3 separate regions of the Homo sapiens genome follow, and regions 1 and 3 are each linked to region 2. The links come from fine-mapping of genetic effects on gene expression. A gene starts in region 2. Each other region holds a variant in brackets. All regions are shown on one strand. Distances are from middle to middle.

Region 1 (8,182 bases), 96 kb before region 2:
GCTACTCAGGAGGGTGAGGAAGGAGGTCTGACTGAGCCCAGGAGATGCAGGCTGCGGTGACCCAGGACTGCACCACTGCACTCCAGCCTGGGCAACATAGCAAGACACTGTCTCAAAAAAAAGAAAGAAAGGAGTTGTTCCTGAATTTGAGTTCTTAAAATGGAAACTGCCTGTAAGGGCTGGGTATGAATATGACTGACAGTACATGCATATCTGAAGCATATTCTTTGGATATGTGTCTATCTTTATAACTTCCTTCAAAACTTTTAATTTTTTATTCTTATTTTTTATCTTCCTAGTTACAGATCTACTACCTCTTGCCCTGTGTCTGTATATTTCTTTTATCTCACTACTTCATACTTACATGTAACATGCAAACATATGTTTGTCACTACTGACTACATCTGAATAAGGCCTTTCATTTATTTAATGATAAAATGGTGGTTTCTCTAAGAGCTAGGGGAAGGGGAGAATGGTGAGTTAATGTTTAATGGGTATAGAGTTTCAGTTTGGGGGTTTTTTTGTTTTTTGATAGGGTCTCACTGTGCCACCCAGGCTGGAGTACAGTGGTGCAATCTTGGCTCACTGTAGCCTCAATCTCCCGGCTCAAGCAATCCTTCCCCCTCAGCCTCCTGAGTAGCTAGAACTACAAGTGTGTGTCCCGCTATGTTTTAAGTTTTTTGTAAAGATGGGAGTTTCCCCATGTTGCCCAGGTTGGTCTTGAACTCCTGGCCTCAAGCGATCCTCCCACCTAGGCCTCCCAAAGTGCTGGGATTACAAGCATGAGTCACCATGCCTAGCAGAGTTTCAGCTTTACAAGATGAAAAGAGTTATGGAGATAGATGGTGGCAATGGTTGCACAACATTATAAATGCATTTAGTATCACTGAACTGTATACTCAAAAATGGTTCAGACAGCAAATTTTATAAGTATTTTACCATAATAAAAATCAAATTGCAAGGGAGATGGGTTTATGAGAATAATGTTTTCTATTTTAGCTCTATTTAAGCAAAACCCCTACCTATTATTCTTTCAATCTGATTTTCCAATCTGGTTCTGAAGTTCCCACATCCCACCCGCTAGGAATCACTGGCCCTTACTAGAAAGAAAACAGTTCTTTTTTCCTATCCCATCCCCATAGCCTGATGGAGAATCTGTAAGCCAGGAGAACAGGAAAGAGAAAAAAACACCTCATGGGCCAAAAATAACTGGGTTACTATGTGCAGTGTTATGATATATATTGGTTTTCATCCAGGGTTCCTGGCTCCTAACTCCCACAGCCCTTGTTACAGTCTTTTGTTATAATGTTGGGTGTGTCGGGCCTCGGGGGCAAGTCTCTGACCTTTTTCTGCCCTCCTTCTACTCTCAGGGGCCCCTGCCTCTCTGACTGTGGGTCTTAGGACCCTCCCATCAGAGATCCCACCCTATACTCTAGAGGAAGGAAAGCTCCAGAGGACAGGGCTCAGTGAGCTTCGGGACAGCTGAACATGTGAGGTTCCTGGAGGGTGGTGCCCAGGGAGGGCATGAAAGCTCCGCACCCCTCCCCCATACCTCACCGTAGCATTTCTTCATCTGCATCCTTTGCAATATCTTCTACAATAAACCAGTAAATGTAAGTAAGCGTTTCCCTGAGTTCTGTGAGCTGCTCCAGCAAATTAACTGAACCCAAAGGGGGCTCATGGGCACCTCAAATTGAAGCTGGTTGGTAAGAAATTCCAGCAGCCCAGACTTACAGACTGACGTTGGGGGTGGGGGGTTGAGGGCTCTTGGGGACTGAGCTTCACTTAATCTATGGGCTCTGACACTGTCTCCAGGTAGACGATGCTGGAACAATTAGAGGACACCCAGCTGGTGTCCGCTTGCTTGGTGTGTGGGGAAAAAAACCCCACACATTTGGTCACAAAAATCTTCTATGTTTATGTTTGTTGTGGTATGAAAGTAGAGGAAAAAGTTTTCTGTACACATTCTGCATGGAAATTCCTTTTTACGGATTTAATATTTCTGAAGCCAGAATCTCCTCATGTCTGAATGAGCAGCCACTACATACTCTTATTTCTTTCAGGTCAAAAGGGTAGAATCCACTAATCATTTTCCCCAAGATGAAATTTCAGAAAAAAAGAGAAAGAAGCTAATGAAAATTCAACAAATTTAAAACATGAATAAATTCCTGTGGCTCTGAGGATAACCAAACAATAATTGTCTTCATTCTCCTATTTATAGGTTTGAAAAAAAGAAACTTCACAAGGCAGATTTCCCCAAAGACTTACTCTATTATGCTAGCATAGGCTTCAGGTAAAGACAACCTCTTCCTGACAATCATCTTCCTAAAATGCCTGTTTTAGGAAAGATGAAAGAAAAATACGTGTACTTTGCCCACTGTCACAAAGGATAACTGATAATCTTCAGTATCCTGGTCCAGAAACGAGGACAGGGTACTCTACTCTTGCTTTAAGTTTTCAGTATGCGTATCACAATATTAACTCATAAAAGCTCTTGGTGAACCAGACCGCTATCCTGTAAAAAAAAAAATACACCTGTCCTCCTCTCCCTCTCCCTCCTCTCCCTCTCCCTCCTCTCCCTCTCCCTCCTCTCCCTCTCCCTCCTCTCCCTCTCCCTCTCCCCACGGTCTCCCTCTCCCCACAGTCTCCCTCTCCCTCTCTTTCCACGGTCTCCCCGATGCCGAGCCAAAGCTGGACTGTACTGCTGCCATCTCAGCTCACTGCAACCTCCCTGCCTGATTCTCCTGCCTCAGCCTGCCGAGTGCCTGCGATTGCAGGCGCGCGCCGCCACGCCTGACTGGTTTTCATATTTTTTTGGTGGAGACGGGGTTTCGCTGTGTTGGCCGGGCTGGTCTCCAGCTCCTAACCGCGAGTGATCCGCCAGCCTCGGCCTCCTGAGGTGCTGGGATGGCAGACGGAGTCGCGTTCACTCAGTGCTCAATGGTGCCCAGGCTGGAGTGCAGTGGCGTGATCTCGGCTCGCTACAACCTCCACCTCCCAGCTGCCTGCCTTGGCCCCGCAAAGTGCCGAGATTGCAGCCTCTGCCCGGCCGCCACCCCGTCTGGGAAGTGAGGAGCGTCTCTGCCTGGCCGCCCATCGTCTGGGATGTGAGGAGCCTCTCTGCCTGGCTGCCCAGTCTGGAAAGTGAGGAGCGTCTCTGCCCGGCCGCCATCCCATCTAGGAAGTGAGAAGCATCTCTGCCAGGCCGCCCATCGTCTGAGATGTGGGGAGCGCCTCTGCCCTGCCGCCCCGTCTGGGATGTGAGGAGCGTCTCTGCCCGGCCGCCCCGTCTGAGAAGTGAGGAGACCCTCTGCCTGGCAACCGCCCCGTCTGAGAAGTGAGGAGCCCCTCCGCTCGGCAGCCACTCCGTCTGGGAAGTGAGGAGCGTCTCCGCCCGGCAGCCACCCCGTCTGGGAGGGAGGTGGGGGTCAGCCCCCCGCCCGGCAGCCGCCCCGTCC[G/A]GAAGGGAGGTGGGGGGGTTAGCCCCCCGCCCAGCCAGCCGCTCCGTCCGGGAGGTGAGGGGCGCCTCTGCCCGGCCGCCCCTACTGGGAAGTGAGGAGCCCCTCTGCCCGGCCAGCCGCCCTGTCCAGGAGGGAGGTGGGGGGGTCAGCCCCCCGCCCAGCCAGCCGCCCCATCCGGGAGGTGAGGGGCGCCTCTGCCCGGCCGCCCCTACTGGGAAGAGAGGAGCCCCTCTGCCCGGCCAGCCGCCCCATCCGGGAGGGAGGTGGGGGGGTCAGCCCCCCGCCCGGCCAGCCGCCCCGTCCGGGAGGTGAGAGGCGCCTCTGCCCGGCCGCCCCTACTGGGAAGTGAGGAGCCCCTCTGCCCGGCCACCACCCCATCTGGGAGGTGTACTCAACAGCTCATTGAGAACGGGCCATGATGACAATGGCGGTTTTGTGGAATAGAAAGGGGGGAAAGGTGGGGAAAAGACTGAGAAATCGGATGGTTGCCATGTCTGTGTAGAAAGAGGTAGACATGGGAGACTTTTCATTTTGTTCTGTACTAAGAAAAATTCTTCTGCCTTGGGATCCTGTTGATCTATGACCTTACCCCCAACCCTGTGCTCTCTGAAACATGTGCTGTGTCCACTCAGGGTTGAATGGATTAAGGGTGGTGCAAGATGTGCTTTGTTAAACAGATGCTTGAAGGAAGCATGCTCGTTAAGAGTCATCACCACTCCCTAATCTCAAGTACCCAGGGACACAAACACTGCGGAAGGCCGCAGGGTCCTCTGCCTAGGAAAACCAGAGACCTTTGTTCACTTATCTGCTGACCTTCCCTCCACTATTGTCCTGTGACCCTGCCAAATCCCCCTCTGCGAGAAACACCCAAGAATGATCAATAAAAAAAAAAAAAAAGAAAAAAAAAATACACCTTATTTTCTATTTAAATAAGTGAAAAACACACACAAAAAAAAACCGAAACAAAAAAAAAGAAAGCAAAGCATAAAAAAGATTTAAAAAACAACAACAAAAATAAAATAAAGTTTTGTCTTCATTTTAAGATTTAAACCTATTTGAAAACAACGTATCAAGATCATTTTTAATCACCCAGTGAGTTTTTCTGCAGAGAGAGAAAATTTTAAGAACATTTTCAGAGTATTTTTCTAAAGACAGAGCAAAACTTGAAAGCTTTTATTTTTTTTCTTTTTGAGACGGAGTCTCACTCTGTTGCCAGGCTGGAGTGCAGCGGTGCGATCTCAGCTCACTGCAAGCTCCGCGTCCTGGGTTCAAGCCATTCTCCTGCCTCAGCCTCCCGAGTAGCTGGGACTACAGGTGCCCACCACCACGCCCGGCTAATTTTTTGCATTTTTAGTAGAGACGGAGTTTCACCGTGTTGGCCAGGATGGTCTCGATCTCCTGACCTCAAGTGATCTGCCCGCCTTGGCCTCCCAAAGTGCTGGGATTACAGGTGTGAGCCACCGCGCCTGGCAGAAAACTTTTCTCTAATATATGTGACAGATCCTCAGCATGAAAAAGCATGTACGTTTTATCAATAAACCCTTTTCTGAATATATATCAGCTTTCTGTTTACTCCAGAGTACCAGCCGTAATGCGCTCAAACTGTCTTTGTGTCAAGGCTACTACAGACCCTCTTATGAGGAAACAACATCTAGAGAGAAGCCAGGCAGAGAAACCTGAGTACTCACACCAGAAGCAACTGAACAATCAGGAACTCCCTGGAATCCAGCCAACATACACACCTCATTGTCCACTGTTTTTAAGTAGGACACTGCTCACTGGGAGCCAGGGCAGCCAACCTGTAACGTGCAATTTTCTTCATGCCTATTACCTGGTCTTCTCAAATAAACAAGTGTCTCTCACCTCCATTACATACATTTAAAAGTTTGATGTATTTTTGGTGCTATTTTGAAAAGGAAAACAGTTGTACAGAGTTCAAGGGGTGACAGGTGTAATATCCTATAAAGCTACTGAAATGGTTCATCTTACAAAAGCAAACACAAACTCCCCAAAAATCATCATTAACCACATGGAGCCGTCCCATGGCTGAGTCTCTCCAAGTATATGCAGCATCTGACAATCTACTGGGATCTCATGACTAATACTCTCATTCTTAAACTATGATAGTCTCAAAACCAGGACCTCTTTCGAAACAACGATATTCTGCCTCAGCCTCAAAGACTAATTTATTCAAAACCAAAGAAATGAAGAAAATATGCATATCCCTCCTCAGAAGGATGAGAAGGGACTAAGAAACTTCAAAGGCCACCTACACCTAATATGATTAAGATTCTGACAAAAGATCATGACATGAGCAACAGTGTCACTCCCCACCTGGAAGCCAAGCAGCCGTGTTAAGAGAAAGAACACAGGCTCCCATGGCAGGCGGGCTCCACTCTGCCATTTACTAATGGTAGGTCCTTGACCCAGCCACTCCCCTCTCTAGCTTGCTTATTATGTGGGCTAATATGCCTCAGGAGGATCAAATAAATAATATCAGGGATCTAAAAAAAGATGATAGGGGCCTGACAAGGACTCTAAATGTGTGAAGGGGATTGCAACTACTGTGCTGAGAGGTGCTCTAAATTTTTTTTTTTTTTTTTTTTTTTGAGATGGAGTCTCGCTCTGTAGCCCAGACTGGAGTGCAGTGGTGTGATCTCGGCTCACTGCAACCTCCGCCTCCTGAGTTCAAGTGATTCTCCTGCCTCAGCCTCCTGGGTAGCTGGGACTACAGGTACGTGCCACCACGCCCGGCTAATTTTTGTATTTATAGTAGAGACGGGGTTTCTCCATGTTGGCCAGGCTGGTCTCGAACTCCTGACCTCAGGTGATCCGCCCACCTCGGCCTCCCAAAGTGCTGGGATTACAGGCACGAGCAACCAACCATACCCGGCCTGATTTTTTTTTTTCCAACAACAACACCAAAAAAAAAAGTCATGAATTTTGGACGATATCTCCAACTAATTCAACGTTATTACAAACTCTGCAGGCTGCCACTGTTTGGGCTAAACTTTGAGCCATGTTCAAGCCGTGGGCGTCTAGTCTGTAATGGCTGCTCTCACAAAGCTCTTAGAGCGCCCACCAGACAGTATCACAAATACAACTCAAAATGTTTACCAACTTCCAACAAATCCAAAGTGGGTTGATTGAGGGGTTTTCTAAAGGCACAGGAATGGCAGAAATAAAAGCACGGAGGGGTTGAAAAGTTAAGCAACCAGTAAGACACAGCATAACAGAGCACATAATTCTTGAAGTATTTTTGCCTTTGAGGATGTGCTTTACAGAGAGGAAAGCGCACATTCCCTGGAGATGTTTTGCTGTGACGTAAAGCATTTAAGTATCCAAACAAAACCTGGTTTGACAGTTTCCTGAGTTGTGCTTTTATTGTGCTGAACCATGAACTAAAGAATATCTTACTTTCCTTATCAAAAAAAACAGAAAATTGTTAACATGATACTGAGAGGTTATCATTTAGGGAGAGTGTATTAATAGAAAATAGTGGATTTGTGCCTTTTTTTCCCTCTTAGTCAAGCACAATTTCTACTTTAGATACAGGAAGGAGCAGCTATTCTTTAAAATTCAACCTACAAGTTTTCTCATATTACTGTTTTCCTAAATTTCAAAAATGCTATAATTTCTTTTTAAACTGTTATTTCCAATTACATAAACAGCAGAAATACATTCTCTATTATAGATGTAAGGAATTAAACTGACTCATAATGATGATCCAGATGATCACTAATAACATTTTGGTACATTTCCTTCTTGTCAGTGATTCCAACACTTACTATGTAACCTTGGGCAAGTTACTTTTCCATACCTCACTTTCCTCATACGTAAAATAGATAACAATAGTACCTACCTCACAAAATTGATATGAGCATTAATTAACACACACCAAGTACTGTAACAATGTCTGACAACAATAAATTATTGGTAACTTTTTCATCTGTATACTTTTTAAAAGAAATTGGGATCATGGTATACATACAACTTTGCATCTGGCTGTTTACACTCAGTATTTTATCATGAATATCTTTTATAATAATAAAAGACTCAGACAATGTTTTGAATAGCTTATATCATAATTTATTCTCTTATTCTATATTTAGTTTGTCTCCATCTTTTTTTTCTATTTAAATAAAAAATGTGGCCACTGTTATGCTACTGGTACCACCAAAAATGTTCTAAATCATACTAAAAGCGTCTATAAAATATATAGGTGGATTTGGACTCTGACTTGATTCAAAAGATTAAATGCCTCAAGAATTTTCTTTTGCTTCACAGGGGAGTCTTTTTTTTCTTCAGTCAGGGTCTCACTCTGTTGCCCAGGCTGGATGGAGTGCAGTGGCACAGTCATGGCTCACTACAGCCTCAAACTCCTGGGTACTATAGGAGATTGGTCAGGGTGGTGGGAAAAGTTATAAAAAGTTATAGGGAAAGATGCAAACCTTCTTGGAAGGCCAGGAGGTTTTGCAAAACTTCGGGAGAGAATAAAGCTGAAGGCAGCTAATTCTCTTACCCTGAGGCAGAGGGTGAGAAGTAGGTGCAAGGGAATGTAGAGGAGTTTATCTAGATAAGTTTATTTACTTATGTTGCCCGGAAACCGACCTTAGATCATCCGCACACCAGACTGCTCCCTGCAAGGGGGGACAACAATGTTAATTACCACAGATTGTGTTGACTCCAGGCCTCTGTCAGTACATCTGTACTGAACATAGACA
Region 2 (8,182 bases):
AGAACTGAGAAATAAGTTTCTGTTGCTTATAAGCCATCAGTCTACAGTACCTTGTTATAGTAGCTTAAACTAAGACAACTGATTTTCTTTCTTTTTTTTTTTTTTGAGACAGAGTCTTGCCCTGTCGCTTAGGATGGATGTGGTGGCATGCCATCTCAGCTCACTGCAACCTCTGCCTCTCGGGTTCAAGTGATTCTGATGCCTCAGCCTCCTGAGTAGTTGGGATTACAGGTGTGCGCCACCACACCCAGCTAATTTTTTGTATTTTTATTAGAGATGGGGTTTCGCTCGGTTGGCCAGGCTGGTCTCAAACTCCTGGCCTGAAGTGATACGCCCACCTCTGCCTCCCAAAGTGCTGGGGTGACAGGTGTGAGCCACTGCACCTGGCCTTGATTTTCAATGAATACTCTCTACTTAACATAAAATTCTAGGTGTCACAGTTATCTAAAGGGATGAAAACAGAGCACTTCCTAATCATAGAAAATTCTCCAGATTGTGATTTAAAACTTTTAGCAGAATCTTAGAATTTCTAAAGACTGCAGGAAAGTGCCTAAGACAAGGCAGGATTATGAAAGCCATTATCACTTTCTAGCCTACAGTAATGCTGGATAAGATAGATAGAATATGACCTGCCTAAGTTTGAAAACCGGAACTTTAAGCATTGTACGTTCTCATATAATACATTCTCAATATAATATCTGGCATTTAGAAGCTTGGCTGCTGACTGATACATGAATCATGCTAGAAAATATGCATTTTTGATCTTTTAAAAATGCATTTTACAGTTAATAAGAGTTCAATAAAATAGAAAGCGTGCATTAAGTGGTCTTTATTGATGTTTCACATTCAGTTATTATCAATTCTTCAGTTAATTGTACAAGTATGATAAATTATTTTCTATTTGCTGTGGGAATTTAAATGTAAAATAAATACAAAATACATGTGTGGTTTAATGAACACTCAATGAAGCATCTCTTCTGAGGTATTCCTTTCAGTCTGGTTTTATCCCAGATCTTTTTACTTCCCCTAGGAATAGTCTATTAAACCACACAATGGATCTGTGAACTTGTAGATCAAGTTCACTGTAAATCTGTGAACTTGTGTTTTAATTACATTAGACATATTTTTTGATCTCATCATACAACACCAATACAAAAGCACCGCCCATGCCTCTCAGCACATTGGACCAGGCACCTTTGAAGAAGGCCTTGGCTCCTTCGTCTTTTGCAATCTTCCTCCAGCAGTCAACTGTCCCCGTGTACATAATATCGGCTGTGGAAACAAATGCTGGTGAGGGCTCCGTAACGCTGGAGGAAAGAGACTTTTCCCCTGAAACATATCTGTACACACTGTTACCAGTTTTATAAAATCAGGGTCATCTGGGCATGGAGTCCCAGCTCCATGCAACATCCCACTGGACATCTCCTTCCTTGCTTCACTGGCAGGCTGGGTCTCCTGTCATTCCTACTCCATTAGTTCAAGGTCAGTGAAGAACTGGGGCAATTAACCAAGTAATTCATGGACTGCCCAACTGCGAAACAAGAAGGGCGCAGTGGAGCAGGAGTATTATGCTACGCGGTTACCTTTTTTTATGGAGGACCGAACTGAGGCCGAGCCTCAGATGATCCTGCACGAGGTTATGCAGTCTAAATAAAAGGCTGTAACTATTCGTTGAAACATACGAAACTGCTAACATTGGACTGTTTTTGACTTTTAAAGTGGCAATTTCGTATGGTTCAACCTATAGAAGCCAAAACTTTCTCTGGCACAACAGATTGCTTCAGGCCATCTCTACCCAGCTAAACACCCCATCCCACTAACACCTGTAACTAGGAGGGAAGCAAGAGTTCTTTGTAAGAAGTAGCTAACTACTTCTTTTCCCTAGCTTTTGCACCCAGGCTCTAAGGGAAGAGGGCCTAGGGTCTCTATAATGCTGGATACCTAGTTAAATTCACATCTAAATGTCTTACTATTCATGTTCTTATCATCTCTAATAAAATGGAAAATACTTTTCCCTAATAGGATAGTTGAGAACGTTAGGGGGAATTAATACCATCTTTCTTCCCTAAGTCCTTATCAAATAATTTTGAAAATTAATTTCCAGTAAGGAAGACTGAAAGGAGCCCTGTAAAATGTTCTCCTCGGGCAAAACCAAACAAGTTTAGATGAGTAGAGCACAAGCTTACCCCCTTTCCGGCCGGACTGCATCATCATTCTACGACGAACAGTGTCAAAGGGGTAGGACACCAGCCCTGCGACTGCCGTCACACTCTGGGCAATCATCCAGCTCACAAAAATGTGCACGTTCTTGGGGTCAGGCAGCATCCCTGTGGACAGAGCCCAGAAGCCGAACGGCTATGAAGTGCCTGTTCTCAGCAGAAAGCAGGTGGAGGGAGAGAGGCCACTGCACCTCCAGCTCCATGCTCTGACCTTGCGGGGAACCTGCCCCTGTGCAGGTGCTTCACATATGACCAGGCAGACAGCAAAGGTGGCTGCTGCCCTCTCCGGACCCCGGAGGGGCAGTGCTCAGCTTGTATACAGGGCATTGGAAGTGGCTTCAAGTTAAACTCAGTAACTGCTATGGCTGTGTCTAGAGGGAGACAGGCTCCCCCCTCCTCCTCTCTGAATAACTAAAGGCCAGAGTTTATTTCAGTAGAGGACACAAGGAACGCTTCAGCTATTAACTTATGCACATCACCTCCTCATTCAGAAGCCTCAATTATCCCAGAGACTAGAAAAAACAAGATCAATATATATCAGGTCCTTTGTGAGTTATAGATCCCATAGGATCCTCTTTCCACACCACCCTCCTTCTCCCCGATGCCCCTCTCTCACCCTTGGCAGTATCATAGACTCCGAAGTAGGCAGCTCTATAGATAATGATGCCTTGGACAGAGACGTTGAAACCCTGGTAGAGCCCCCTCAGGCCATCAGACTTGAAGATCTTGATGATACAGTCGCCCAGACCATGGAACTCACGCTGGGCGGCGCCCTTGCCCACATCAGCAGCCAACCTGGTCCTAGCAAAGTCCAGCGGGTAGACAAAGCAAAGGGAGGTGGCCCCAGCGGCCCCACCGGACGCCAGGTTACCAGCAAAGTAGCGCCAGAACTGCTTATGCCGATCCACACCCCCTAAGAAGAGCTGCTTGTACTTGTCCTTGAAGGCGAAGTTGAGAGCTTGGGTGGGGAAGTAACGGATCACGTTGGCCAGGTTACCCCTCCAGAAGGAGAGGAAGCCCTGCTCCTTAGGGATTCTCACCACACAATCAATGATCCCTTTGTACTGCTTCTCAGCACTGATCTGTTTGCTGGCATGCTGGACCTGGTGGAGGGGAGGGTGGGTGACAGAGGACAGGCAGGGTAGAGAGAAGGGAAGAGGACAGGAGAAAAAAAAAGGTTTGCACTTCCTAGATTTTTTTTTTGAAGAAAAAAAGGATGAGGAAATCAAATGGATACTGAGGACGTGTAAATGGATACTGTTATCCATGTTAGTTACTGGATAACAAGCCAAAATAATCCAATGTTGCTTCAATTATTAGGGTATTTGAGGGAAAAGGTATTGCCCCAAATAAACTGAAAAGGTGATTGAATTATATAAAGCTATAGCCATTTATTTATTTCACTTTCCCTAGGTTTGAGAACTGTATGAGGGGCTTACTGGGGGACAGAAATGAGTAACACTCCCTGCTTCAAAGGGCTTTGGATTTAATAGACATGATGGCCAAAAAATGACAATTTCTCAGTGTCACTCTGATCACCCTGGAGATGAGGATCTCTACTAGATGCTCTAATAGAGGAAGGAGAATAAATCCACTAAACATTAGGCCTCCAAAGTTTTCAAGCAGATAATCCAAGTAATCAATTATTAAGGGTTTGCTGCCGTTGTGAGCAATTTGTGGGGGTTTTGTTGTTAGTAATTCTGACTCCCAAATTGGGCTCTTCCTCATTGAGGGGCCCTGACCTTTTGGGCAGGTGGAGGAAAACACGAGAGGATGATAAACCATTCAGCGACCAGGTAGGGGAGGAAAAGATTTGGAGACAGGATGATCTGAGTTTATTCCGAAAATTGTTTCTTAATATTTCAAAACCTCAGCTTCATCTGTAAAATGGAGAAGAATAACTCTCTCACAGAGGTTACATAAAGATGAAGGCGTCAGCCTACATACAGCATTGTGCATGAGATACGATAAGGGAATTCTTGGGTGATGATTATTTTGATGTTTTTATTGTAAAGGTGCGTGCGCATAAGACGGTGCCAAAAATACTGGCAATCACTAGGTGCCTCCGGGCCTGAGTGCACGCCCGTGCTGTCACGGGCGCAGGATCTGGCACACGTAAACCGGCTCCGGGTGGGTTTCCATATATAGACACCCGAACGCCGGGCGCCACCCGACACCAGGAATCTGCGACTGACGCTGGACCTGTCTCTACGCAGAGGGCACCTTCTTCCCCCGCGGGCGGGCGGGCGGGCGGGCGGGCGCCCGGGCCTGTGGCCTGGCGCAGATTTTCCGCGGCGCCCCGCGCCCTGCAGCTCGCGCCGCATCGCGCGCCCCGCCCGGCCCGCCGCGCCCGCGCCCGCCTCTTGCACCGCGCGGTCCTCACCTGCAGCAGCAGTTTGACCCTCTCGATGGGGGCGACCGCGGTCTTGGAGACGGCAGCGGCGACGCCCCCGGCCAGGAAGTCCTTTAGGAAGCTCCAAGCGTGATCACCCATGGTGACAGCTCGACGCTCTCAGCCCGCAGGCAGCCCGTTCGTGCTCTCGCCCACGCCCGGCCTGGCACCGCCGCGCAGTCCCCGACCCTGCGCGACGCTAGGGGGCCGCCGCCTGGCCCGCAGCTCCCCCTTATATCCCCGCCGGGCTCTCGCGAGAGGAGGCGGGTCGCGGCCGGCGCTCGCGCCGCGCATTGGCTGGGCAGGTGCGGGGCGCCCCCTCCTCCCAGCTGCAGAGGGCATCGGGGGCGAAGGCGCTTCCGGGAGCGAGGCTGGGCCGGGGGCTGTCCCTGCAACTTGGGACGTTTAAAGGGCACATTCATGTTATCTGTCCCGCCGAGCCCAGGGAACACCGTGTCACCGCGGCATGTGGGCCGCGTATTTATAGCACAGGCAGCCTTAGGCCGGGGCGAAGCCGGGGCAGACACCGGGCCGCTGCCGCCGGTGGAGAGTTCTTGACCCTCCGGCCTGCACGGGCCGCGCTCAGGCCCAGGGATTTCGAGCTGTTTCCTCCTTCTTGCATCTAAAGGCGCCCCCCACCAGAGCTCACTGCCTGGATATGGGCCTCTTTAGAGCCGTGCGCTCCCGAGAATAAATGGCAGTCCTCTCAAATAGATACTAAGGTCACCTGATGCTGTGATTGCCTCATAGAATCTGACAACCTGCTGCCTCTCATTTCTTTTCATTCAATCGTTCGTTCAGTCATTCATTCTGCTATTACATATTGATGTGTCTGGCACTCAGTGCCCACAGGAAAGACCTGGTGCAGGGGGCCACTAGGTGAATTCATACTTGTTTCTGCAAAACTCTGTGACTCTAAAACACAGGACACTTCTTTTGTAAGCCCCTAAAGGGTTCAATGTACCACTCTGCTCTCAGCGGAATTTCAGCACATATTAGGGCAGAATGTTCTGTCTGTCAGCCGGTGCCTTCTTGAGGGTCAGTGCTGTCAGCCTTCCGGAGATCCAGTCCTTGGCTGTATTTGCCTCTTTTTAATGACAGCTGGGGTTGAGGAAATGCTATTTAATCCCAGGAAATTAATTGCAATTAATTTCTTAAAATATATAAATCTGAGCTTTAATTTTCCTTAGCTTGTTTTTTAGGCAGTTCATGTAACCATACAGGTTTTCAAATACAACTGTTCCTTCCCCTAGAATGACTGCAATTCGTTTTTAACTTTAAACTCTTCACTCAATTATCTTCCCATGTTTGCTAATTTTCATTTGTACCTTTAACAAAGTTTATTCATTGTTTTATAAACTTTTTTTTTTTAATATTTGCTGACATCATGTTAGAGGTTTACGGAGCTGCAGCTGCGTGTCACCCTGGGCGTGGAGACTTTGGTATAGCAGAAGTCACTAAGGTTCCAGGGCCACAGAGGGCATGCGTTTATCTAAGAGTGGGGCAGGCTAGAGTTCCGAAATCCAGGTAAGCAGAATGAAAGCTAGAAACTAGTGGAAAGCTGCCAGAGGTCAGAGCAGACAGAAGTCAAGAACTCGGAAGAGACAAACAGATAAACCATGTATGTGTTCATTCAACAGACTCTTGCTGAGCATGTACTGTGTACCAAGAACTAGGTGTAGCCCTGTGGATTGAATATAAGTAGACGTGGCCCATCTCCAAAGACCTTACAGTTCAGTGTATTCGTCACTTGCTCCACTTTATCAAAACTTCACTTACTGATTTCCATGGATCAGCATAATCCACACAGTAAACCTTTTTAATTATAATAGTGTACTGTATCCCATCCTGTAATATAGAGCACTTGCTTTTATACCTCCATTTTCCTTTTAATTGTGCATTAGAATTGTGTCTTATTTTTATGATGAAAAATAGGCCGGGTGTGGTGGCTCATACCTTTGGGAGGCTGAGGCTGGCAGATTACCTAGGTCAGGAGTTCGAGACCAGCCTGGCCAACATGGCAAAACCCCATCTCTACTAAAAATACAAAAATTAGCCTGGCGTGATGGCTCATGCCTGGAATCCCAGCAGCTCAGGAGGCTCAGGCACGAGACCCCCGAGAGGCAGAGGTCATGGTGATCTGAGATCACTCCACTGCACTTCAGCCTGGGCAACAGAGAAAGACTCTGACTCAAAAAAAAAAAAAGAAAGAAAGAAAGAAAGAAAGGAAGGAAGGAAGGAAGGAAGGAAGGAAGGAAGGAAAACTAATACTGCTACATTGAAACTTACACAAACTTCATTTTCTCCTCTAAGTTTTTTCTTCTCATATATTTCCCAAATGGAATGGATAGATTTAAGATTTTTAAAGTTTTGTAGCTTTTGCTACATATTGACAAATTGCTCTTCAGAAATACCAACCCACCAGTTATATAGATGGGCTTTCTCTCACACTCTTCTCCAACACTGGCTTTAAAAAAATAGAGAGTTGGTTATTTGTGAGTTATTTATGAGTTTTAGTTTGTATTTACTTAATTACTATGAAGCTGTATATATTCCATATGATTCAATTTAATTTGACAGTTTGACAAGGTTTCCCTTTTGTATAAACTTTTAATCTTCCTTGACTACTGCTGGAGTGAAAGCAGAGTATTTATATTAACAACAATTCTTTATATATTTGGGACAATAAATATGTGTTGAATGTTTTTCATTTTGTTGTTTTCCTTTTGATATTTATTATATCATTCTATTAGTGTTATGAACAGATCTATGGTATGATGATGATCTATTTCATGTTCTGATGTAAATGTATCTCTTTTATAGATATAGCAGTCTATTTACTCTAGTACATATATCAGTTTTTTTCTTCTACTTTGAGTAGCTATTTTTAAAATGTCTAACACTACGTTTTATATTGTATGGAGGTATGGGTCTAATTTCACTTTTCTCCATATCATGCTTGGGTATCCCAATACTAATTCTTAAGTAGATATTTTCTTCTCTCCATTATTTGTCTTATATTACTAAGTCTAGTTTGTCATATATTAAGTTCTCATAATAGCTTTAATTTATGAAATATCCACACTATGACATATTTATTTGATCTTCATTTTTTAAAAATAGGCTGATATATGATTCTACAATCACTTAAAAAATAAAGTTTTATCTGCTTATGTGTCTGGATTTATTTTTACTATCAAGTTGTTCAATTGTTTAAACATCACCAGAAGATTTTAAATAGACATTTAAACTAAATTAAATATTAATTAATATATGAATTCAGGAAGTAGTATCATCTTTGTTACACTTAATTTTACCAATCAGAGTTTTGGATATTTTCTAAATGGGAGATATATTTCTCCTTGGCTACTCTCCAGTTATCCTGTTCTATAGAAGGAGTCATAGCTGGAATCCTTGACAAGAGGTTTTCCATGGAAACTCATACACTGTCCTCTGCTTCCACGGACTTTCTCAGAAAAGAGAGGCCTTACATGCCCTCGGGAGCATGAGCTGCCTGTGGTCACAAGATCCTGGTATCACTTACACAGGCAGGGGAGAGAATGGCGCTCGG
Region 3 (8,182 bases), 230 kb before region 2:
TTTTAAATGGATTGCTTTAATGGCAGACTAGATGTGGCTAAAGAGAGAATTAATAAAAAGGGAGAGATTACTGAAGAGATTACCCAGAGTGTGTCAGAGAGAAAAAAAACGATGGAAAATCTGAAAGGCAAATTTAAGAGACATGAGGAGAAGGTCTTATCAAAATGCTGGAGAGAAAAATGAAATAGATTGGGGCCTCTGAAGAGCATGGTGGGTTGACTTGTGTTTCCAACCAAAGATATATCTGAGTGCTAACTCCTGAAACCTGTGAATGTGAACCTCTTTGGAAATAGGATATTTTACATGTAATCAAGTTAAGAGGAAGTCATGTTGGATTAGGGTGGGTGCCAACTCCAATGACTGGTGTCCTCATAAGAGGGAGGAGAGGACACACAGAGATAGAGGAGACATGAAGGGAAGGCCATGTAAACACAGAGGCAGAGGTTGAGTTGTGCAACTACAAGCCTAGGAACACCAGACATCACCAGAAACCACCAGAAGCTGGTGGGGAATGCTTAGGATGATTTTTCCCTAGGGCCAGAGGAAGCATGGCCCTGCCAACACCTTGATTTTGGACTTCTAGGCTCCGGAACTGTGAGAGAGGAAATTTCTGTTCTTTTAAGCCACAAAGTTTTTGATATTTTGTTTTAGCGGCCCCAGGAAACTAACAAACACAAATAAATTATCCCTGAGAATGTTTGGGAGCTAATAAAAGACGCCAATCCAAGACAGGAAGCTAAAAATTCCCAAAACATAATAAATATCTAGTCAATCCAATAAATACCCAGTAAATCCATCAAAAAGGCAATATTTATTGTATTGCCTGGACACGGTGACTCACTGCGGTAACCGCAGCACACTGGGAAGCTGAGACAGGAGGATTGCTGGAGCCCAGGAACTTGAGACCAGCCTGCATAACATGGAGACCCCATCTCTACAAAAATTTTAAGGAATTAGCTGGATGTCATGGCATATGCCTGTAGTCCCAAGTACTTGGGAGGCTGAGGTGGGTGGATCACCTGAGCCCAAGAGGTTGAGGCTGCAGTTGAGAGCTATGATTGTACCAATGCACTCTTCTAGCCTGGATGACAGAGTGAGACGCTGTCTCAGAGAGAGAGAGAGAGAGAGAGAAGTGCGCAGGTGCTGGGACACGCCAGCTGTTCTGCTTACCTGTCCTTAACTAGCCCTGTGGCCTTGGGCAAGTTACTTAACTTCCCCACTGTCCCTTGGTTTCCCCATACGTTAAACGAGCCTCATAATGAACCTTATTTCGTAAAGTTTTGTCGGCGCTGCCTAGAAAGCCTTACAACAAAGGTCAATACTTGGCATTTAATAAGAGCTCAGTAAATCTTTGATTTAGTTTTCCAAACATCTCCAAAACTTCTTTTAAGCTACAGCAGCAAAAACCATGTGCAGTCTTCTAACCACAAAAGGCAACATGAGTTTTAAACAAAGTAAGGTATTGTTTTCTGATTTGTTTCATTTCTGATGCCCTTCCTGAATATGCCAGTTTTTTCTTAGCCTTTTTGGATAAGTAGCATATTGAGTTAATGTCTTCAATGAAAATAAAACTTCCACATCCAATCTTTCAGTCATAAATGAGTGCTATCTGCACCATCCGATAGGGATTGTTTTTCTTCTTAATACCTTACCTAATATTGCTTCACCCTAAGTAAAGCTCATTGGGAAATTTCATATTCACTAAAGGCAACCATAAGATTTGGGGAATCATATAATCAAGAATTGTATATATCTAAAAAGGAACATTATAAAATCCTTTAATGCAGACCACTTATAGTCCAACTTAAAGATGAGGAAATTGACTCTTAAAAAGATTAAATGACTCTTCCAAAATCACAAAGATAATTCAGTGATTTTTTTCCCCTACTAAATGTTCCTTTTTTCTGCACTTCATTCTCACTTAAGCAATTTATTGTCTAAAATAGCATCATGGAATGATATAAAAATGCAGCTTTCCAATCACACTAAGGGTCTCTCTATTTCTTCTCTTGACCACCAATCAGGAACCTTTGCTGGAAGCTTGTTTCTGATTGGTGAAAGTAAGCCATAACAGTGGAATGCCAAGGAGTAAATACAAAAGTGTAGCAACAACTGAGTTTGCTGTCTCACTACCCTCAGCCTAGGCCAACCTGGACTCCTTCACCCCAAATGAGGTGACCGCTACATTTTATATGAAGACACTGATTTACCATTCAACTGTGATCCATCTTATAACATGGCAATCCAATACAGACAGGAAGATAAAACTCAACAACAGCTAAAATAAAGTGTATTCCCAGGTAAAATAGACAAGTGCTTTAATTTGAAATGGATTCGTCCGATGAGTGTCAGTTACAAGGGCAGAGAAGGTACCAGTGCAGAAGAGCTCTGACTGTGGGCAGTGTCACCAGGTCCCACTAAGTGGCAACACTTGTGCTGGGTGACTTGACCCATCTTGATGTATAAACCCATAGCCAGACAGGACGTGCAAACAGGTCTCATGGTGAATGCGATGCTGTGGAAAATGACATGGAGAATGGCTGTCTCTCAGCTAGGGAGGAGGGTCTTGGTGTCCTAGTAAAGAATGTTCACGTCCTGGAGTTGGTGGTTGGTGTTCTATCTAGGCGATGAGAGAAGGATGCTTTTCCTAATGAGCACCTGGTGGGAATAGAGTCTCTCTTTGCACTTCGCTGGAGGAAGAAATTTCTACCACTTATTTTTTCTTCTTGCTTATAGAATACACATTGCAGAAAAAGGATGAAGTTGACCAGTGAAAAGTTGCCCAAGAACCCCTTTTATGCCTCTGTATCTCAGTATGCTGCTAAAAACCAAAAATTTTTCCAGTGGAAAAAGGAAAAGACTGGTACAAATCCTGATATTTAAGCTTCCCTTGGAAAACACTTTAACAGTTCATTTTGCATGCTAGAGCAAACGAGACAAGAAATAATGTGTTTTATTGATTTCAAGGAAGTGGTTAATCATTAGTCCTTTTGAGTTTTCCCGCAAGAATCTGTGAAATTGCTCATTTATCTGGTAGCAAATCGTCAGTGAGGTCTCACAGATAGTTAGGTCTTGATTTTACTCTCAGGACTTAAGGACATGCTTCTAGAAAACAGAAAGCAGATGTCACGTTTGTTAAAGAGAACAATGCCAGGCTTGACTTGCAATTATTATTTAAATACCTTATCTTCCCTAAAGTCTTAAAAATGTTATATTAGGGATGGGTTGCTCATTTGGTTAGAGGAACTCTCATTAAGGCTCAAATTAAGAATTTAACTCACCTCTCCAGAGAGCTTTGCCCATTGAAGACAAACCAATGCATAGACTTATACCCAGCCCTGCACTGTTAGGGCTCTACTTGGCCATGAGCAGGGTTAGTGTGAAACCAATCAACAAGTATTGTTTGTT[G/C]TTGTTGTTGTTGTTTTGAGATGGAGTTTCGCTCTTGTTGCCCAGGCTTGAGTGCAGTGATGCAATCTTGGCTCACCGCAGCCTCCGCCTCCTGGGGTCAAGCTATTCTCCTGCCTGAGTCTCCCGAGTAGCTGGGATTATAGGCATGCACCACCACGCCCTGCTAATTTTGCATTTTTAGTAGAGACGGGGTTTCTCCATGTTGGTCAGGCTAGTCTTGAACTCCCAAACTCAGGTGATCCACCCGCCTCGGCCTCCCAGAGTGCTGAGATTTACAGGCGTGAGCCACCGCGCCCGGCCAGTATTGCTTTATTACACAAGGCACAGTGTTAGGGCCTGTGACCATGACGTTTTTTCAGGTAATATTTCTTCCTTGAGCTAAGGAGGCCAGTTGTAGGAATGAGCACTAGAAAGCAAGAATGTCAACAGTGTTAGATGGATTTTATATGATTCATTACTTCAAGAGAGAAAATTCATATTGTGTGGTTGATGGAATTCCTTACCTTTTTAAAATCAGATTACACCCATGCTAATTTGGTGGATAAGGCATTGCAGCTCTTGAAGGAAAGAATACTGAAAGGAGACACTCTGGCATATTTCCTACGAGGTCAACTATATTTTGAAGAGGTATCATTTTTTGTTTATTCGTTTTCATTTCCTGTAATTCTGTTGTTAGATCCTCAGACAAAAATTTCATGTAGAGTTTCTTACTGTGTTATACTAGGGAAATTCTGTCCAATTACATCGACTATGGCTGTGGCTTTAACAGTAGGATACAGTGCTGCCAGCTTGAGGAGCTACCTGACTTTTCTTCATAAAATCCATGTCATGAAAGCCATTTATGGGAGTCGTTTTAGTATAAAATCCATTTCACACTATAGATTAAAAATCAAATTTTTATATTTTTGCTCAAAATATTTAATAATACAAATTATATTATCAGGCCGGGTGCGGTGGCTCACGCCTGTAATCCCAGTACTTCGGGAGGCCGAGGCAGGTGGATCACCTGAGGTCAGGAGTTGTAGACCAGCCTGGCCAACATGGCTACACCCCATCTGTACTAAAAATACAAAAAAAAAAAAAAAAAAAAAAGTAGCTGGGCATGGTGGCACACATCTGTAATCCCAGCTACTTGGGAGGCTGAGGCAGAGAATCGCTTGAACCCAGGAGGCAGAGGTTGCAGTGAGCTGAGATCGTGCCACTGCACTCCAGCCTGGGCCACAGAGCGAGACTCCCTCTCAAAAAAAAGTATGTTTGTATTACCAGGTATCTTCATATTAATAATAATTGAAGCCTTGATTTTTATCTAGTACTTAGGGGAAGCTTTAGTTGTTCCTGGATAGCATAGGAGGAAATCGCCCTCTTTCTCCACATCTTGTTGGGGTGGCCTGGGAAGTAGACTGAGGAATGGCTATGCCAGCTGTCCCCTCAACTTCAGTAATGTAGTTTCGGTTTTTCATTGACTTCCCCGGGAAGACTTGAAAAGGGACTGACTGTCTTTCACCATTTGTTGACTATTTGGGCAGCTGTTCACCTATATCCCACTTACTCTCTCACTTTTCGATGGCACCTTCGTCTATCCTGGCAACAAATGTTTGCTGAGGGCTCATCGTGCGCCTGTTACTCTGAGGATGGCAGAGCACCATGGCTGAGAGCATGCTTCCTCAGCGTGGGGCATGGGTTCAGATATGGCTGCATTGCTTGTTAACTGTGTGTTTAACTTGGGCACAAACACTTGACCACTTGGTGCCTTTGGGATTACTTTAAGATCATAATAAAAATAATTAAATATCTTCTGGGTGCTTCTAGGGATGGTATGAAGAAGCATTAGAACAGTTTGAAGAAATCAAGGAGAAAGACCATCAAGCAACTTACCAGCTAGGAGTGATGTACTATGATGGGCTGGGGACCACTCTAGACGCTGTAAGTTAATGTCTTGGTCACAGTGGTTAAGATTTCATTGTCAGTGGATTATTGGACACAATTAAAATTATTTATATTTTAATACATATATATATACATATATATATATATATATATATATATATTTTTTTTTTTTTTTTTTTTTTTTTTTTTTTTTGAGACGGAGTCTCGCTCTGTCGCCCAGGCTGGAGTGCAATGGCGCGACCTCGGCTCACTGCAACCTCTGCTTCCCGGGTTCGAGTGATTCTTCTGCCTCAGCCTTCACAGTAGCTGGGATTACAGGCACTGCCACCACGCCTGGCTAATTTTTGTAGTTTTAGTAGAGACAGGATTTCACCATGTTGGCCAGGCTCTACTAAAAATACAAAAATTAGCCAGGCATGGTGGTGCATGCTTGTATTCCCAGCTACCTGGGAGGCTGCAGTGAGCCAAGATCATGCCACTGCACTCCAGCCTGGGTGACAGAGCAAGACTCTGTCTCAAACAAACAAAAACCAAAATATATTTGATTGTCCAATATTATTTTCTTCTTTTGGGTGATGTTTGAAGGTTTGTGTCTGATGGATTTGGGGGTGGAGGGTACAGATCTGTTCTTGCTAGTGGTTAGAATATCTTCTATGCTTTCCTTGTGACCACGTAGCAGATGTCGTATTAGTGCATAAGATTTGTATATTAGATACAAACTATGAGCACACAGTAAAAGTATGCTTGAATGGAAGACGGTGTTTGTTAGGGGCTCGCAAGTGTATCGTAAGAATTATAAATGTGAAAGCTGTTCCTGGCCATTCTTCCACTTTAGCCAGTTCTAAGAACTGTGCTGATTCAGGATAAGGGTTATTAGATGGGAGGGAGGAGAGAAAAAAGGAAGCCCATATCGAGACTTAAATCAACTCAGGCAGCTGTAAAAGGAAGGAAATTTCTTATATCCCAGAGCTCCTGGGAGTGCCTGAGTAGGAGATGTACTTTTAGAGATTCTTTTCCTCCTTATCGCTTGCCCTGCAGAATCCAGGACAATTGTACCCCTTGGGCACAGATTCATAGTATTATACATCGTGTCAGAGGGCGGACACTTCACAGCCTTATTGGGAGAAAGAAATTCAGTTTGGGTAAAACTAAAAACTAGGGTTTTTTTGCTCTTTCTTTTGTCGAAGGAGAAAGGGGTGGACTATATGAAGAAAATTCTTGATTCTCCATGTCCCAAAGCAAGACACTTAAAATTTGCAGCTGCTTACAACCTCGGAAGAGCTTATTATGAAGGAAAAGGTGTTAAACGATCAAATGAGGAAGCTGAAAGGTAATCCTACCTGAGAACAAGATTAGGTTTGAAGGAAATGCTGAAACCGAGAATAACATGCCTCACTTTCTCTTGTAGACTGTGGCTTATCGCAGCAGACAATGGAAATCCCAAAGCTAGTGTGAAGGCTCAAAGTATGCTCGGGCTGTATTACTCAACCAAGGAGCCCAAGGAGTTAGAAAAGGTAACGTTCCCTCTTTTTTAATGCTAGTGTTATATTTAGATTAATATTTGTTTCACTGCTTTTTTTGAGAAAATGGTGGGGAATGTCGTTTTAAATATCTCTTATAGTTCCTTTAAATGTAAAGAAAGCATACATTTTAGGATCTCAAAGCCCTTTTATTTATAAATGTCCCCTTCCCTACCTCTACCGAAGGAAACCATGAATGTGAGAGTATTTTGTATACTATAGTATCAAAGCTAAAAGAAGAGAAACAGTCCTGAAATTACAGCCAAAATCCTTCTAAGCATGAACAGATGAATATTACCGTTGACTTGAGAAATTGATACTAATAAGTAAAATATACCAAGAATTAGTTACAAATAAAATCCATCTAAGATTTTCACAGAAATATAATCTCTTTCATCAATGGTTGAAACAGTTTCCAAAAAATCCTATAAGGAGAAGGAAATGGGGGCTGAGTCCTACTTGTGAGAGAGGAGTTAATGGCAAATTTGCAAGAGACACATAACAACTAAGGCCATCTTTGGATAGATAAGCAGCCATCTGGAATTTTTTAAATGAATTCAAATTCACTGTAGCAGAGTATGAGGCAAATGTGCTTGAGCCTACATACAGCGTTTATCCTGGGTTGTCTTTGATCGCAGCAGCTGCTATCTCTAGAATCCACCGGGAGCTCGAACTCTCCCTTAGCATCAGTGGTTTCCCCTCCTCTGCTGTGCCTCACGCCTTTCAGACACTGAGTTCCTATTTGGCATCTTCCTGATCCTTACTCTGAAGATCCCCAAATCCTGAAACCTAGGACAGCTGGTCTTCCTCTGCCATAAGCTGCCTGGACTGTGATCTCACCTGCACTGTGGACAGACAGCGGAGGAACTCGCCTCCACACTGTGTTAGGCATGTGTGCTAGTGTGAAATGCGTCCAAAGGCCTACCGCTCTTTCCTAGAGATGATTAATAGTGCTATCTAGGAAACACAGAGTTCTTTTCTGTCTAGTATTCCCTTATAATTTCATCTAGTGGATCACAAATACAATGATGAAACTGTGCTTTTCTTAGGCATTTTACTGGCATTCCGAAGCATGTGGCAATGGGAATCTGGAGTCCCAGGGTGCACTTGGGCTCATGTACTTGTATGGACAAGGCATCCGGCAGGATACGGAAGCTGCCCTGCAGTGCTTAAGAGAAGCAGCAGAACGCGGAAACGTCTATGCTCAAGGGAATCTCGTGGAGTATTACTATAAGATGAAATTTTTTACAAAGTGTGTTGCATTTTCCAAAAGGTGAATGTCTTTGTCTGTTCTGTGCTGCTGTAACAGAATATCACACACTAGGTAATTTATGAGAAACAGAAATTTATTTCTCACAGTTCCAGAG

Direction of the effects. Positions count from the first base shown, and alleles are read on the strand shown. Sizes are in standard deviations (SD) of each study's normalised expression. Not every link is listed here.
In carriers of allele C in region 3, the expression in Th1 cells of the gene that starts at base 4,820 in region 2 tends to be lower than with G alone (moderate effect, 0.71 SD a copy in Schmiedel 2018).

Evidence for each region. PIP is the estimated chance that this variant, and not a neighbour inherited with it, causes the effect.
Region 1: its variant is the best candidate, but not a certain one, in a credible set for the expression of SLC25A4 in blood mononuclear cells (TOPMed, PIP 0.58).
Region 3: its variant is the best candidate, but not a certain one, in a credible set for the expression of SLC25A4 in Th1 cells (Schmiedel 2018, PIP 0.67).

What each region holds. Positions count from the first base shown.
Region 1 is chr4:185,235,948-185,244,129 of GRCh38, reverse strand. The region is part of intron 1 of SNX25 (sorting nexin 25); the gene reads right to left. Among named protein-coding and RNA genes, the nearest start is that of SNX25, 30 kb to the right of the region's middle. RefSeq lists enhancers at 2,423-3,414, 3,415-4,407. The variant G/A (reference allele first, on the strand shown) is at 3,459.
Region 2 is chr4:185,139,904-185,148,085 of GRCh38, reverse strand. It overlaps SLC25A4 (solute carrier family 25 member 4), which reads right to left and starts at 4,820. Exons shown (of 4, transcript NM_001151.4): 1 at 4,603-4,820; 2 at 2,836-3,322; 3 at 2,187-2,327; 4 at 1-1,272. The coding sequence starts at 4,713. The coding sequence ends at 1,115. RefSeq lists a silencer at 4,749-5,048.
Region 3 is chr4:185,372,762-185,380,943 of GRCh38, reverse strand. LRP2BP (LRP2 binding protein) reads left to right here. Exons shown (of 9, transcript NM_001377440.1): 2 at 2,737-2,863; 3 at 3,926-4,035; 4 at 5,218-5,331; 5 at 6,483-6,625; 6 at 6,704-6,809; 7 at 7,865-8,088. The coding sequence starts at 2,758. It also overlaps a transcript of SNX25 not described here. Among named protein-coding and RNA genes, the nearest start is that of LRP2BP, 19 kb to the left of the region's middle. The variant G/C (reference allele first, on the strand shown) is at 3,409.